Linked DNA regions of Homo sapiens: region 2 is linked to region 1. The links come from fine-mapping of genetic effects on gene expression. Tissue or cell type: whole blood. Region 1 holds a variant in brackets; the other region holds the start of a gene. All regions are shown on one strand. Distances are between the middles of the regions.

Region 1 (7,658 bases):
GACCCCACCCCCCATCTCTACTAAAAAAATACAAAAAATTGGCCAAGCATGGTGGTACATACCTGTAATCCCAGCTACTCAGGAGGATGAGGCAGGAGAATTGCTTGAACTTGGGAGGCAGAGGTTGCAGTGTGCCGAGATCGCGCCACTGCACTCCAGCGCGCCACTGCACTCCAGCCTGGGTGACAGAGTGAGACTCCGTATCACAAAAAAAAGAAAAAGGTCAATGACCCTTCTCAAGGAGAACTGTGCTCTGCTGTGACTGTGACTGGTCTGTGCTGGTCTGACGGCTGGAGCCACACACTCTCATGAACATTCCCCTGATCGTTCCCATCAGGGACAACATGGCCAGGCAAATAGCACATCTCGCCAACTAAGTCAACAGGACAAAGCACTGGGCAGAAGATCAATATGCCTCAGTGGTGTGTTGTTTGGCTGACTGTTGATTAGGGAGTTGGCATGCTTTCTTTCTTTCTTTTTTTTTTTTTTTGAGATGAAGTCTCACTCTGTCGCCCAGGCTGGAGTGCAGTGGCACAGTCTCGGCTCACTGCAACCTCCGCCTCCTGGGTTCACGCCATTCTCCTGCCTCAGCCTCCCCAGCAGCTGGGACTACAGGTGCATGCTGCCATGCCTAGCTAATTTTTGTATTTTTAGTAGAGACTGGGTTTCACCGTGTTAGCCAGGATGGTCTCGATCTCCTGACCTTGTGATCCGCCCGCCTTGGCCTCCCAAAGTGCTGGGATTACAGGCGTGAGCCACTGCGCCCGGCCGGCATGCTTTCTTAAATATCTGCATCCTGCTTTTAGACTTTCAGCTTTCTTTTTTCTCCCAGGGATGCATGTCTCTGTCTCTTCATAAAAAAATCTGAGGATATTAACATAAATTTTAAATTCTTGGGCACCTCTCAGGTTGAGACTAGGCTAAAGTTTTGGGATACAGGGGTGTCCTCAGTCAAATCAGAAATAATTCCTTACATCATAGACACCTCTCTTAAAACAAGTCATGCCTGCCCCTTTCTAGAAATGAGAAGGCACATTAAGCACATAGCTTTAAATGAAACTCATAGGAGCCGAACACATTTTGCAAAATTACTCCCTCTCAATACCAAACTTACTTTATTTATTTATTTTTTTGAGATGAAGTTTCTGTTGCCAGACTGGAGTGCAGTGGAGCGATCTCGGCTCACTGCAACCTCTGCCTCCCGGGTTCAAGTGATTCTCCAGCCTCAGACTCCTGAGTAGCTGGGATTACAGGCACATGCCACCATGCCCAGCTAATTTTTGTATTTTTAGTAGAGATGGGGTTTCACCATGTTGGCCAGGATGGTCTTGATCTCTTGACCTTATAATCCACCTACCTCGGCCTCCCAAAGTGCTGGGATTACAGGTGTGAGCCACCACGCCCAGCCCCAAACTTCTAACTGCTACTAAATAAGCATGCAAAATTCCAAATGAGGAGGAGATAGACATTGGACACAGCTGTGATCCTTGACACCTCAAAGTTACATCTGGGGTTGGGGGGGAACGTGCTTTATGGTCGTTGCATTACACGAGACTGAAGTGGTGAAGGTCATTTTTCAGCACTTAGCGCTCCTGCTAGGGTCCTGACTCCCAAATCTACTTTCTCAGTGGCATCCGCAACATCGTTTGCTCACTCAGTTGCCAGGGTAGCAGCTCTGGCCTCCTAGAGGCCACAATTCTACTAATATCAATGGGAAAACTTAATGAGGCTCAGATCCCAACCTGCCCCTCTTCCTCCAGAGGCAGCTTCCACTTCTCCTCACAAAGCTGGGATATGGCATCATCAGCGTTCCCCCTGTGGTGCCACCCCTCACAACCCAGGATTTAAAGAGCCCTTAGGAAGCAATCATCTATACAAGGGTGATCACAAGAATGGGGTTACTTAAGCATGAGCCCTAAGTGTCACTTTGCTAAGGCAATACAATGGATTTCAACAAAGAAATATTCGTTTCCACGTAGTTTGATACTGAAAGCAGAAAACTTTCTTTTTACTGCATGCAGGAAATGGTTTTCATAGAGGCTAACCACAGCTGAGCCATCTGTAAACCACAACATTGTTTCTCTTTAACAAATGGAAGATTTTTACCCACGGTATCACTGACCATCAAAAAGAATTCCCATCCTCCATCTCTAGAGCAAGAGAAAACGGTAAGTAGAGTTTCTTTCCTTAATCTGCTAGCCAGGGGTTGCTAAAACAGCCTTTTCATTCAGAAATGTAGTTTGTCCTCCAAGGTTCATCCCATCCCTACTGCTAGGAGATGTATGAACCCTTAAACAAGTCCAGTTTCTTTGCATTCTGAGACCCCCTCGGAGCATGCGCTTTTATGTGACCATGACTCACACTGGGTCATAATGTAAAACGTGTAACTATGACTGAAGGCCAAAAAGTTTGAAAAAGATGCTTTAGCGTTAACTGGCTGGCAAACGAAGAAGGTCTGCTGAAACAAAGTTGGCTGCTCTGCCAACAGATTGTTTGAAGGAAAACTAGTTAAAAAAAAAAGAAAAAAATCAAGTGCAATCAACTAAAGTAGGGCAGACCCTTCCATTCTTTGATTTTTCCCTGTGTATTAGCCATTTGCTTTGGGAAACTTGGCATCACGATCTCCCTGCTGTGAGAGCAAGGCCTCTGACCCAGGGCTCCTCACCCCAGACTGTGAGAGTGTGTGATTGACACCCTCTCCTGGGGGACGAGTGGCTTTGCTATGGCCTTCCAGTCACCGTGAGGCTCAGCTGGTGACTCTGCAAGGATTGCATGAGTGTGTTCATTGTTCTCACTGTTCAGATGAAGGAAAGGGGCTCAGAATATGGGACATTGATGGTCTCATGTGAATTAAACAACTGAAATGAGGGGGACTCATGCAAATAAAAGAACAAAATCCAAAAACATGACCTGAGTCACACCAAGGAATAGTTTCCCTCTAAGAATGAAGAGAAACAAGAACCCAAATATAAGCTACTAAATGTACTTGTACTCTGGAAGAATGCTGGAAAATCTGATGACTTACTATTTCTTATTCTCAGCTAGTATTTTTTTTTTAAGAGATGGGATCTTGCTGGTTTTGAACTCCTGGGCTCAAGTGAACCTCCTGCCTCAGCTTCCTGAGTAGCTGGGAGTCACAGGCACACGCCATCATGCCTTGCTCAGCTAACAGCTAATACTTTAATATTTTAATAAATTATTATTATTATTTTTACAAGACAAGATCTCACTATGTTGTTCAGCCTGATCCTGAACTCCTGGGCTCAAGGGATCCTCCTACCTCGGCATTCCAAAGTGCTGGAATTACAGGCGTGAGCCACAGTGCCCAGCCTGGCTAATACTTTTTATAATAGCTTTACTGAGATGTAATCCACATTCTAAAGATTTCACCTATTTAAAATGGTACAACTCAGTGGTTTTTAGTATATCCATTACCACAATCTCATTTTAGAAAATTGCCACTCCTGCCAAAAAGCCCCTTATATCCAGTAGCAGTTACTCTTCATTCCCCTCACCAGCTCTTGGCAACTACTAATCTACTTTCTGCCTCAACAGATTTACCTATCTCTCAGGTAATACTTTAAACCAAGCTTGTCCAACCTGCCTTATTCTGTTATTGTTTTGTTTTGTTTTGGGCTTTTACCAGCCTGAAGCCATGTTTTTCAGTTTCTGCCTCTAGTGATAAGCGGAAAAGAGGGGTGAGGAAGGGGCTTTATGGGCCCAACCAGAAACAGAAACTAAGAACTCATGACTGTATTCTCTCCCTTGGACACCCCTGCTTTAAACCATAAATTTAAGATTATATATAAGCATCCAGAAGAAACAACACATCTCTCAGTTGGTATCTATCACAGCCTCCTATAGGAAACACATTTAAACTTTCCTAATTTGTTTTCTTTTTCTTTTTCGAGACCAAGTCTTGCTTTGTCGCCCAGGCTGGAGTGCAGTCGTGCGATCTTGGCTCACGGCAAGCTCCACTTCCCAGGTTCATGCCATTCTCCTGCCTCAGCCTCCCGAGTAGCTGGGACTACAGGCGCCCGCCACCATACCCGGCTAATTTTTCTGTAATTTTAGTAGAGACGGGGTTTCACCGTGTTAGCCAGGATGGTCTCGATCTCCTGACCTTGTGATCCACCCGCCTCGGCCTCCCAAAGTGCTGGGGTTACAGGCGTGAGCCACCGCGCCCAGCCTATTAAACTTTCCTAATTTGTTTTCTACATGATGGTCATGCATACATTTTGTAAGAAGAATCAGAAATCTAGTCTTTACACAGGAATATTAGAATATCTGGGCATTGCTTGTAAAGTGAAGTCCCAGATATCACCAACACTATTTCGGATCTGTGTTTTTAAAGCACTTGGGTACAGTGGCTTTGCAGTCAGTGTAGAAACCTGTCCCTCCCACTTAATAAATTTTTATTTATAGTCATGTGTTGCTTATGTTCTGAGAAATGTGTTAGGTGATTTCATTGTTGTGCCCAACATCACAGAGTGTACTTACACAAACCTAGATAGTATAGCCTACTACAGGCTTACATTGTGTGGTAAAGTTTATTGCTCCTAGGCTACAAATCTGTATAGCATGTTACTGTACTAAGTACTGTAGGCAACTGTAACAGAATGGTAAGCATCTATGTCTAAACACATCTAGACCTAGAAAAGGTACAGTAAAAATATGGTACAGTTGAGCATCCTAAACCCAAAAATCTGAAATCTAAAATGTTCCAAAATCCAAAATATTTTGAGCAC[T/C]GACATGACACTCAAAGGAGCATTTCGAATTTTGAATTTCCAGATTTGGGGTGCTCAACCACTAAGTAGAATACAAATATTAAAAAAAAAAAAAATCCCAAATCGGAAACACTTCTGGTCCCATGCATTTTGGGTAAGGGATACTTAACCTGTGTATAAAAGATAAAAAAAGGTACAGCTGTATAGGAAGTTTACCATGAATGGTGGAACCCGCAGGACTGGAAGTTGCTCTGGGTGAGTCAGTGAGTGAGTGGTGAGTGAATGTGACGGCCAAGGACATTACTGCACACTACTGTGGATTTTATAACCACTGTACACTTAGGCTACAATACATTTATTTAGAAAATTTTTTTTTCTTCAATAAAAATTTAACCTTAGCTTACTGTAACTTTATAAACTTTTTAATCTTTTAAAACTTTTTGACTGTTTTTTAGTAATGCTTAGCTTAAAACATAGCACAGCTGTAGAAAAACTTTCTTTATACCCTGTTTCTGTAAGGTTTTTTTCTATTTTAAAATGTTTTCACTGTTTTTACTTTTTAACGTTAAAAAAAAAAAAACTAAGACAAACACACACATTAGTCCAGGCCTACACAGGGTCAGGATCATCAATATCACTGTCTTTGACTTCCTTATTTTGTCCCATTGGAAAGTCTTCAAGAGCAACGTGTCTGGAGCTGCCATCTCCTATGACAACAATGCTTTCTTATGGAATCCTTCCTGAAGGACCTGCCTGAGGCTGTTTTACTTAACTTTTTTTTTTTTTTTAACAAGTAGAAGGAATACACTCTAAAATAACAATTTAAAGTATACTATAGGGCTGGGTACAGTGGCTCACGCCTGTAATCCCAGCACTTGTGAAGGCCGAGGCAGGTGGATCACCTGAGGCCAGGAGTTCAAGACCAGCCTGACTAACATGGTGAAACCCGATCTCTACTGAAAATACAAATTTGCCGGGCCTGGTGGAGCGTGCCTGTAATCCCAGCTACTCCAGAGGCTGAGGCAGGAGAACTGCTTGAATCCAGGAGGTAGAGGTTGCAGTGAGCCGAGATCGTGCCATTGCACTCCAGCCTGGGCAACAAGAGCGAAGCTCTGTCTCAAAAAAAAAAAAAAAAGTATACTATACATACATAAAACAGTAACATAGCTGTTTATTCTCTTTTATATGACTGGCAGCATGGTAGGTTTGTTTACACCAGCATCACTGTGAACACACGAGTGGTGTGTGACTGTATTTATTTTTACTCTGGGCAAGTTAATTTCTCTGAGTCTCAAGTAAGTAACCAATTAGTAAAATGAAGATAATAAGAACTACCTTGCAGGGTAATGATTAAATGAGATATTCATCAACTCAGCCCTTATCGTTGAGTGCCTTCAGTGTGCCAGACTCTTTTTTGGCCACTGGAGATAGACAGATTTCTTACCCTCATTTAATTTATTCACAAGATAAAGATACACAAACAAGCAATTACATTAGGAGAAAACCATTACACAGGAAGTGCAGTAGAGCATAAGAGTCTGAGATGGGGAAAGCTATAGAGAGGGTGGGGGAGGTGTCTGAGAGTTGAAGGATGAGAAAGAATTTGCCAGGGGGACGAGCTGGGATAGAGAAGTCCACAACGAGGCAACAGGCACTGAGATGTGTGTGAATGCACTTAGCATAATGCCTGGTGCACAGCAGATCATCAATACCTCCTGTTGTCCTCACTCTTATCCTCTTGTGTTATGAAAAAAACTCACTCTAGAATCCAGAAAGAAATTTTAAAAATTGTTGTTGCTGGCTGGGCGCGGTGGCTCATGCCTGTAATCCCGGAACTTTAGGAGGTCGAGGTAGGTGGGTCACCTGAGGTCAGGAGTTTGAGACCAGCCTGGCCAACATGGTGAAACTCCGTCTCTACTAAAAATACAAAAATTAGCCGGGAGTGGTGGCAGGCTCCTGGTAATCTCAGCTACTCGGGAGTCTGAGGCAGGAGAATCACTTGAACCTGGGAGGTGGAGGTTGCAGTGAGTCGAGATCACACCATTGCACTCCAGCCTGGGCTACAGAGTGAGACTTTGTCTTAAAAAAAAAAAAAAAAAAATTGCTGCTGCTAGGAAAGATTAGTGGAGCTGGGACTCAGAAGTTGCTTGTTCTTTTTTCGAGGCTAAGTCATCTTTGGCAGCAAAGTGTATTTTAAATTTTGGCGGTTTCTTTCCCCACAAACTTTTGATTTTGAGAAATTTCAAGCCAAGAAACGTTGGTCTCCTTTAATTTAGAACAGTCCCCTTACCTGTAGAATGGCCTGCTCTTTGGAATTGTCTGATTGTTAATTTGAGCTTCTTTGATGGCATATGGGAGTCTTCTAGCATGGAAAGTCCTTGGACTTTTCTCCATCTATACCCACTCTTTGGGTGACTGCATCCAGTCCCAAGGCTTAAATACTATTTGTATGCCTATGACCCCCAAATGTCTTACCTTCAGCCCAGACTCTAACTCCAGCTTTATATACCCAACAGCCTTGAGGGCCCTAGTCTGCTCTGCCTATAGCCTTGCACATCTTAGTTGTGGGGGACAACATCTGTCCAGTCCTTACCTCCCAGACTTCCTCTCCTAGCACAGCCCCTTGTATAGTCCCCTTCAGGCATGCATCTACCTTAGAGGCCTTGCCTCAAGCTATTCCTTCTGCCCAACGACTGTGCCCAGTTATCCCCTTGACTAACTTCCTGACCTCTTTCAAGTCTGGTCAAATCTCCATTTCTCAATGAGGCTTATGCTGATCATCCTATTTAATACTGCAAGCTTCCTCTTCATCCCACATACCTGGTCCTCCTCCCTTCCTCTGATTGTCTTTTCTCTATCACACTTAGCATTTTCTAATGTATCCCATAATTTATTTGTTATGTTTATTCTTTTACTGTCTATTTCTCTGCT
Region 2 (7,658 bases), 110 kb after region 1:
TTTAAAAATTTTCTTGTTGGCAACAGGTTGAGTTTGCCTAAACAGAAAGGAATGTCTGGGTTAAGATAGAGGTTGTGGAGACCAGAGGTTTTTTTTGTTTGTTTGTTTGTTTTTTCGAGATGGAGTCTCACTCTGTTGCCCAGGCTGGAGTGCAGTGGCGCAACCTCAGCTCACTGCAACCCCACGCCCCTGGTTCAAGCAATTCCCCTGCCCCAGCCTCCGGAGTAGCTGGGATTACAGGCACACGCCACCACACCCAGCTATTTTTTTATATCTTTAGTACAGACAGGGTTTCACTATGTTGGCCAGACTGGTCTCCAACTCCTGACCTCAGGCAATCCGCCCACCACAGCCTCCCAAAGTGCTGGGATTAAAGGTGTGAGCCACCGCACCTGGCCACTTTTTTTTTTTAAATGGAGTCTTGCTCTGTTACCCAGGCTGGAGTGCAGAAGCATGATCTTCACTCACTGCAACCCCCACCTCTTGGGTTCAAGAGATCTCGTGCCTCAGCCTCCCCAGTAGATAGGATTACAGGCGCCCGTCACCACACTTGGCTAATTTTCATATTTTCAGTAGAGATGGGGTTACACCACGTTGGCCAGGCTGGTCTTGAACTCCTGACCTCAAATGATCCACCAGCCTCTGCCTCCCTAAGTGATAGGATTATAGGCTCGAGCCACTGCTCGGCTGAGAACACAGTTTTATCATACAGATGAAGCTTTTAGCAGACAGGCTTCAGAGAGAATAGGTTGCAAAATGTTTATTATCAGACTTAAAGTCTGCATCGATGTTAATGTCAGAGACATACAATGAGGCAGGTTCAGCCCCCACTTCCCATCATGGCCCAAAACAGTCTCTCAGGTTAAATGTTAAAGAGCCCTGGCTAAGGAGGAAGTCCATTCAGATGGTTGGGGGCGCCTTAGAATTTTATTTTTGGTTTACAGCAGTTAAGTACATAGACAGCTAAGTAGCAACAAAAAATGGCAATTATTAGCACCAGAGAAAACAAGAAGTGCAGGAAAAGTAATCTGTATAACATACGGTTCAGCTGTCAACATGATGTTTATTCACACTGTCATTAGAAAAAAAAAACACTGGGCCTGGCACGGTGGCTCACGCCTGTAATCCCAGCACTCAGGGAGGCCGAGGCGGGCAGACCATTTGAGGTCAGGAGTTTGAAACAAGCCTGGCCAACATGGTGTAACTTCGTCTCTACTAAAAATACAAAAAAATCATTCGGGTGTGCTGGCGGGGACCTGTAGTCCCAGCTACTCAGGAGGCTGAGGCAAGAGAATGGCGTGAACCCGGGAGGCAGAGCTTGCAGTGAGACGAGATCCCGCTACTGCACTCCAGCCTGGGAGACAGAGCAAAACTCTTGTCTCAAAAAAAAAAAAAAAAAAAAAAAGAAAAGAAAAGAAAATCGATCGGGTGTGCTGGCGGGCGCCTGTAATCCCACCTACTTAGGAGGCTGAGGCAGAACTGCTTGAACCGGGAAGGCAGAGGCCGCATTAAGCAGAGACTGTGCCACTGCACTCCAGCCTGAGCCACAGAGCGAGACACTGTCTCGAAAGAAAAAAAAACACTGAATACTGATCTAACTAAAACTGGACACAGGTTCAACGGCAGACTACGGAGTTGGGGAGGCCCCGAAGGTGGAAGTGTTTGTGTGTGTGTTTGGGATGAGGGGAAGGAGGTCAGGGGCTACTAAAAATGATACCTACTATACATGGGTTAAATCAATAGACAACAGAAATATAATACCAAATTCAAAAGGTGGAAAGAAGTTTCTCCTGAGGAATATTAAATAAAATAGGGATGAGGGTGATGGGACTGGCTAACTTTTTTTTTTTTTTTTTTGAGACGGAGTCTCGCTCTGTCACCCAGGCTGGAGTGCAGTGGTGTGATCTCGGCTCACTGCAACCTCCACCTCCCGAGTTCAAGCGATTCTCCTGCTCCAGCCTCCTGAGGAGCTGGGACTACAGGCGCGTGCCACCATGCCCAGCTAATTTTTGTGTTTTTAGTACAGACGGGGTTTTACCATGTTGTCCAGGATGGTCTCGATCTCCAGACCTTGTGATCCACCCACCTCAGCCTCCCAAAGTGTTGGGATTACAAGCATGAGCCACCGCGCCAGGAATGGAATGGCTAGTTTTCAACGTGCCTTTTAGAAATACTTCACTAGCCGGGGCGCGGTGGCTCATGCCTGTAATCCCAGCACTTTGGGTGGCTGAGGTGGGAGGATCACTTGAGCCCACGAGTTCGAGACCAGCCTGGGCAACATAGCAAGATGCCATTTCTAAAAAAAAAAAAAAAAAAAAAAATTTAAAAAATTAGCGGGCGTGGCAGCCTGCACCTGCAGTCCCAGCTACTCCAGAGGCTGAGACGGGAGGATCGCTTGAGCCCAGGAGTCTGAGGTTGCAGTGAGCCAAGATCGCATCACTGCACTCCAGCCTAGACAACAGCAAGACCCTGTCTTTAAATAAAACAGAACAGAACAAAGTAAAACAAAGAGAATAGGGACGACTCCTGGGTTGTGTTTTGTTAGTCTGTTTGTTTCTTGTTTGTCTAGTCTTTCAACTGAAGATGTGAATGGGTGAAGATACTTTCAACGAGACGGTTTGTCTGGGGAAGACCAAGAAGGGGGAACAGAAAGATTTCTTCAGTAAGATTCATTCTCACCCCGTTCGGGTTGAGATCCCTAAGGAAAGAAAGTTCTGAGAGGAGAGGATGGGTGGACGTCACAATGAGGCAAAAAGCATCAAAGGGGGAACTTTCTATCAGAACTTTCTAACAACCAGGCGGAGAGCGGACAGCTCTATCTTGGACGGGGTGGTGGCCAGCAGCTCTCTCGGGCCAGGGCTGAAAAAAACCTCCAAGGCTCGGACTGCCGCCCCGACTTCTGAAGCAGCGGTGTCGTTCGGGGCTGACCGACGAGCGTCCCTAGCGACAAGGGGCCGTGTCCATGTGCCGGTTCCCGCGCTGCAAGAGGGGGCGGCGGCCGGAGCTGCCCAACGGGAGGGGAGCACAGAACCGCCACGCGCACACGCCTCGGGCCGGAGCGGCCGAGGATGAGGGGCCTGAGGGAGCGGACGCTCGAGAACAGGAGCCCCCCTGGACCACCTGGGCCACAGGGCAGACGCCCGCGGGGGCAGAGCGCGCCTCACGTGAGGCGTGGGGCGGGGCAATTCGCTTCTCGCCTCAGGCGGAATCGCTCACCCGACGGCACGTAGTCCTCGTCCTCCTCCGACGTAGAGAAGTCTTCGGAGTCGAATTCCTCCATGTTGCTGCCGCTCGACGCTGGTCAAACTCACAAGACCGCAGCAGCCGCCTCCAACGGCAAAGCTCTAGGGAGAGACCATAGAGCCCCGGCGGCGGCGACGGCAGCTAGGGCGGCCCCCGACAGCGCTTTGCACATGCGCAGAGAGTACTACGTGGTTGCCCTACGACACTTCCGGCCGATGCCTCCGGGCTGGCGTCCCTGAAGCCCTCGCTGGGAGCCCGAACCCGCCCGGACGCGGTGCATGCTGGAACTTGTAGTCTTCGGCGCTGCCTCGCCGCCTTAATATAATAAACCTGCTTAAATAAAATTACATATCTATGGAAATACAGGTGACCTTCATTAATCATTAATTCGTAATGCCAAATTCACTTACTTGCTAAAATGTATTTGTAACCCTAAAATCAATCATCACGGTACTGTCTGGGGTTCTTCCCGGGCATGCGCAGAGGGTGAAAATTTGGAGTTGGCGGAGGTAAGGTTCCCAGCTGAAGTTTGAACTGGGAGAAGCGCCGCCTTCTAGTCGCAGCTCCTGTGCTGTAAACAAAGAGTCCTTTCCGCAGTCTGTTTACTGACACTTTTTTTTCTGCTTTTTGTGGGTGGTTTTGCTTTCTAAAATGGCCCCCAAGCGTAGTGCTTAAGCTCTGCCCAGTGTTCCTAAGCGAAAGAAGACCGTGATGTGCCTTACGGAGAAAGTCCGCGTGTTGGATAAGCTCCAATCAGGCATGAGTTACAGTGCTGTTGGCCATGAGCTCAATGTTAACGAGTCGACAATCCGGTACATCAAGAAAAAGGAAAAGGAAATTCACCGATCTGTCCGTGAGGCCGCTCCGGATAGTGCTGAAGTGACCTCCATCGTGCGTGATGAAGCTATGACAAAGATGGAAAAGATGGAAAAGCGGCTAAATTTGTGGATTCATGAGATGTCAATCGATTAAAAAAAACATAGTGGACAGCATTGTGGTGAGGCTGAAAGCCAAAGATATCTGTGGTCACGTTACCCAGAGTCAAAGAAATGCTAAGCCCTTCTCGGCGAGTGCTGGCCGGCTCGCGCGTTTCAAAAGGCGATACGGGGTGAAAAATGTTAAACTTGCAGGTGAGGCGAGCTCTGCAGATCAGGAGGCTGCGGAAGAATTTTAAAAATACTTGCTAAGTGTTATACAGGAAAAGGGTTATGTGAAAGAGCAGGTTTTCAATGCGGATGAGACTGGCTTATTTTACAAGGATGTTGGCAAACGAACCTATATAATGCAAACGGCCTCCAAAGCCCCTGGCTTTAAATCATGCCAGGATCATGCACCCTTGTTATTGTGCGCCAATGCCAAGAGCGACTAAAGTGCAAACTCCTAATGGTGTAAAGAACCCAAAATCCACAAGCACTTAACGGGAAATACGTGAACCATCTGCCAGTCTATTGGAGGTGGAACAAAAAAGTGTGGATGATGTCTGATTGGTTCCACAACTGCTTCATCCCAGAAGCTGAACACTGTCTCCAGGGCAGAAACCTTGCCTTCAAGGGTTTTTTGTTTTGTTTTGTTTTGTTTTTTGTTTGTTTGGGTTTGTTTTGTTTTGGTTTGGTTTTGAAACGGAGTCTCGCTCTGTCGCCCAGGCTGGAGTGCAGTGGCGCAATCTCGGCTCACTGCAAGCTCCGCCTCCCGGGTTCACGTCATTCTCCTGCCTCAGCCTCCCGAGTAGCTGGGACTACAGGCGTCCACTACCACGCCTGGATAATTTTTTGTATTTTCAGTAGAGACGGGGTTTCACCGTGTTAGCCAGGATGGTCTTGATCTCCTGACCTCATGATCCGCCTGCCTCGGCCTCCCAAAGTGTTGGGATTACAGGCGTGAGCCACCGCGCCGGGCACCTTCAAGGTTTTGTTAATTTTGGATAATGCTACAATCCATTGCTGCAAAGAACTCGAAAATGCACACGCCAACATAGGAGTTCTTTTTATGCCCCCAAACACTAAGTCTCTCATCCAACCCCTCAATCGGGGCATAATAAAAGCATTCAAGGCACACTACACAAGGGAGCTTTATATGAAGGCCTGTGAGGCTCTCAGGACCAACAAGGAAACCACCATGCTGGACTATTGGAAGTCGGTCACTACATGCAACGTTATTGATTATGTCAGTACAGCCTGGGAGAGCATTGGTCAGGCTACTACCAATAACTGTTGGGAAAATGTTTGGCCAGACTGCGTGGAGAATTTTGAAGGGTTTGAAGGTGTTACAGAAAATATAAAGAACACTGTCAGAGACATAATGCATATGGCACAGCAGGTAAGTGGAGAGGGCTTTGATGACGTGAAGGAAGGAGATGTGGAGTACATTTTGGCAGAGAAGGCAGTGGAACCAACCAACGAAGACCTGGATGAGATGGCAAAAGAAGGCATTGGAGTTGATGGCCATGAAAGTCGGCCCAAGACTTCCAGAATTGTCCCTCTCACAGCGCCAAAATATCAGAATGGAGTTCTGCCTTGGAAAAAATTTTTAGCGACATGGAAGAGTGTGACCCTACGCTTGATCGAAGCCTCAAATTTAAATGGCTGGCCTCCACTGCGTTTGCCCCTTATACCGAGATGCTTAAAGATTTCAGGCAGAAAAGCCAGGCAGGCAAGGCTAATGCAATTTCTCAAGCCAGTTTGGGAGGGAAGATTGCCCACTCCTTCAACAAGTGTCAAGAGCCAGACTCCTAAGGTAGAAATGCCAGAGGTTGACCTGCCACCCTCTTCCTCTTCTGCAGAATAAATTTCACTCACCCCTCCCCTGGTTTCTGTGGGGCAAGCCAAGGTCGAGAGGTTTAACCACATTGTGCAGCTCCATCAACCGTAAGATTTTAGTTGATATTTTTATAAAACTTAGGATGCTCCATCTTTGAACTTTTTCCCTTTATTTGTATTGCTGTACTGTAGGGTATACAGTATGTGTGCAAAGTAGTGTATGTGTTTACTGTGGGAACTGTACAGTATGTTATACTGTTGACTGTATATGGGAACTATATGTGTGTACTCTGTGTGTGCCAATGAAAAGGTTGTACAGGCTGGACGCGGTGGCTCACACTTGTAATCCCAGCACTTTGGGAGGCTGAGGTGGGCGGATCACAAGGTCAGGAGTTCAAGACCATCCTGGCCAACATGGTGAAACCCTGTCTCTACTAAAAATAGAAAAATTAGCTGGGTGTGGTGGTGGGCGCCTGTAATCCCAGCTACTCAGGAGGCTGAAACAGGAAAATCGTTTGAACCTGGGGGTCGGAGGTGGCAGTGAGCCAAGACCATGCCATTGCACTCCAGCCTAGACAAAAGGGCAAGACTGACTCAAAAAAAAAAAGTAGTGCAATCTCAGTACACTAGAGTACATTACACCAAACTACTGTCATTGAAATTTTATTGTAAATACTGCAGATTATTTTTAAGAAATACATATTAAATAAGGTGTCTTTGAACAGAAACACACATAAAACAAAGTTACATACCGATCAGTTGACAAAAGTGTTGACCAGAGGTTCACAGGAACCTAACCCTGTATTTCTCCCAGGACCCATGGTTCGGTTTTTGCTAATTCAATGTTCTCGACAACTTTATAGCCATAACTACTGTGAATACAAAGAATTGACTATTCAGGAATGCAGCCATCATCCACAGGAACCCTTCAAGTTAAACCATATGGAAGTACAACCATATATAATCTTTACCATTTCTTCAGATTAAAACATTTTAATGATCTATTTATGAGGTAACAATCAGAAGCAAATTCAGAAGAGACACCAATGACTACCACACTATTTGGTTTTGTTTGTTTTTGAGATGGAGTCTCTCTCTGTCGCCCAGGCTGGAGTGCAGTGGCGCGATCTCGGCTCAATGCAACCCCCACCTCCCTGGTTCAAGCAATTCCCCTGCCTCAGCCTCCCAAGTAGCTGGGATTACAGGCGCACGCCACCACGCCCGGCTATTTTTTTTTTTTGTATTTTTAGTAGAGACGGGGTTTCACCATGTTAGCTAGACTGGTCTCAAACTCTTGACCTCAGGCAATCCGCCTGCCTCGACCTCCCAAAATGTTGGGATTACAGGCGTGAGCCACCGTGCCCGGCAACTATTTGTTTATCTTGTATACAAATATGAGTTTTTGTCAGCTGAAATTGCTCCTCATTGACACTCTGGACTAGACTGGGTCTGTAAATCCAGGAAATCAAGAAATAAATCTTTTGTGAATCAAGGAATAGATGAGACATGCATGTGATTAATAAGACATTGCAATGGCTCTATACCAGCAAACTTTTAAAAATAGCCTTATTGATTGGGAGGCTGAGGCAGGCGGATCACAAGGTCAGGAGATCGAGACCATCCTGGCTAACACGGTGAAACCCCGTCTGTACTAAAAAA

What was found. PIP is the estimated chance that this variant, and not a neighbour inherited with it, causes the effect.
Region 2: it holds the start of CFDP1, and the variant in region 1 is fine-mapped to the expression of CFDP1 in whole blood (TOPMed, PIP above 0.99).

What each region holds. Positions count from the first base shown.
Region 1 is chr16:75,317,934-75,325,591 of GRCh38, forward strand. The region is part of intron 5 of CFDP1 (craniofacial development protein 1); the gene reads right to left. Among named protein-coding and RNA genes, the nearest start is that of BCAR1, 70 kb to the left of the region's middle. RefSeq lists an enhancer at 1,700-1,869. The variant T/C (reference allele first, on the strand shown) is at 4,749.
Region 2 is chr16:75,430,073-75,437,730 of GRCh38, forward strand. CFDP1 (craniofacial development protein 1) reads right to left here and starts at 3,431. Exons shown (of 7, transcript NM_006324.3): 1 at 3,217-3,431. The coding sequence starts at 3,280. LOC124903723 (tigger transposable element-derived protein 1-like) reads left to right here and starts at 5,132. Exons shown (of 1, transcript XM_047435019.1): 1 at 5,132-6,148. The coding sequence starts at 5,230. The coding sequence ends at 6,027. RefSeq lists silencers at 1,411-1,610, 2,867-3,106 and enhancers at 3,417-3,926, 3,470-4,037.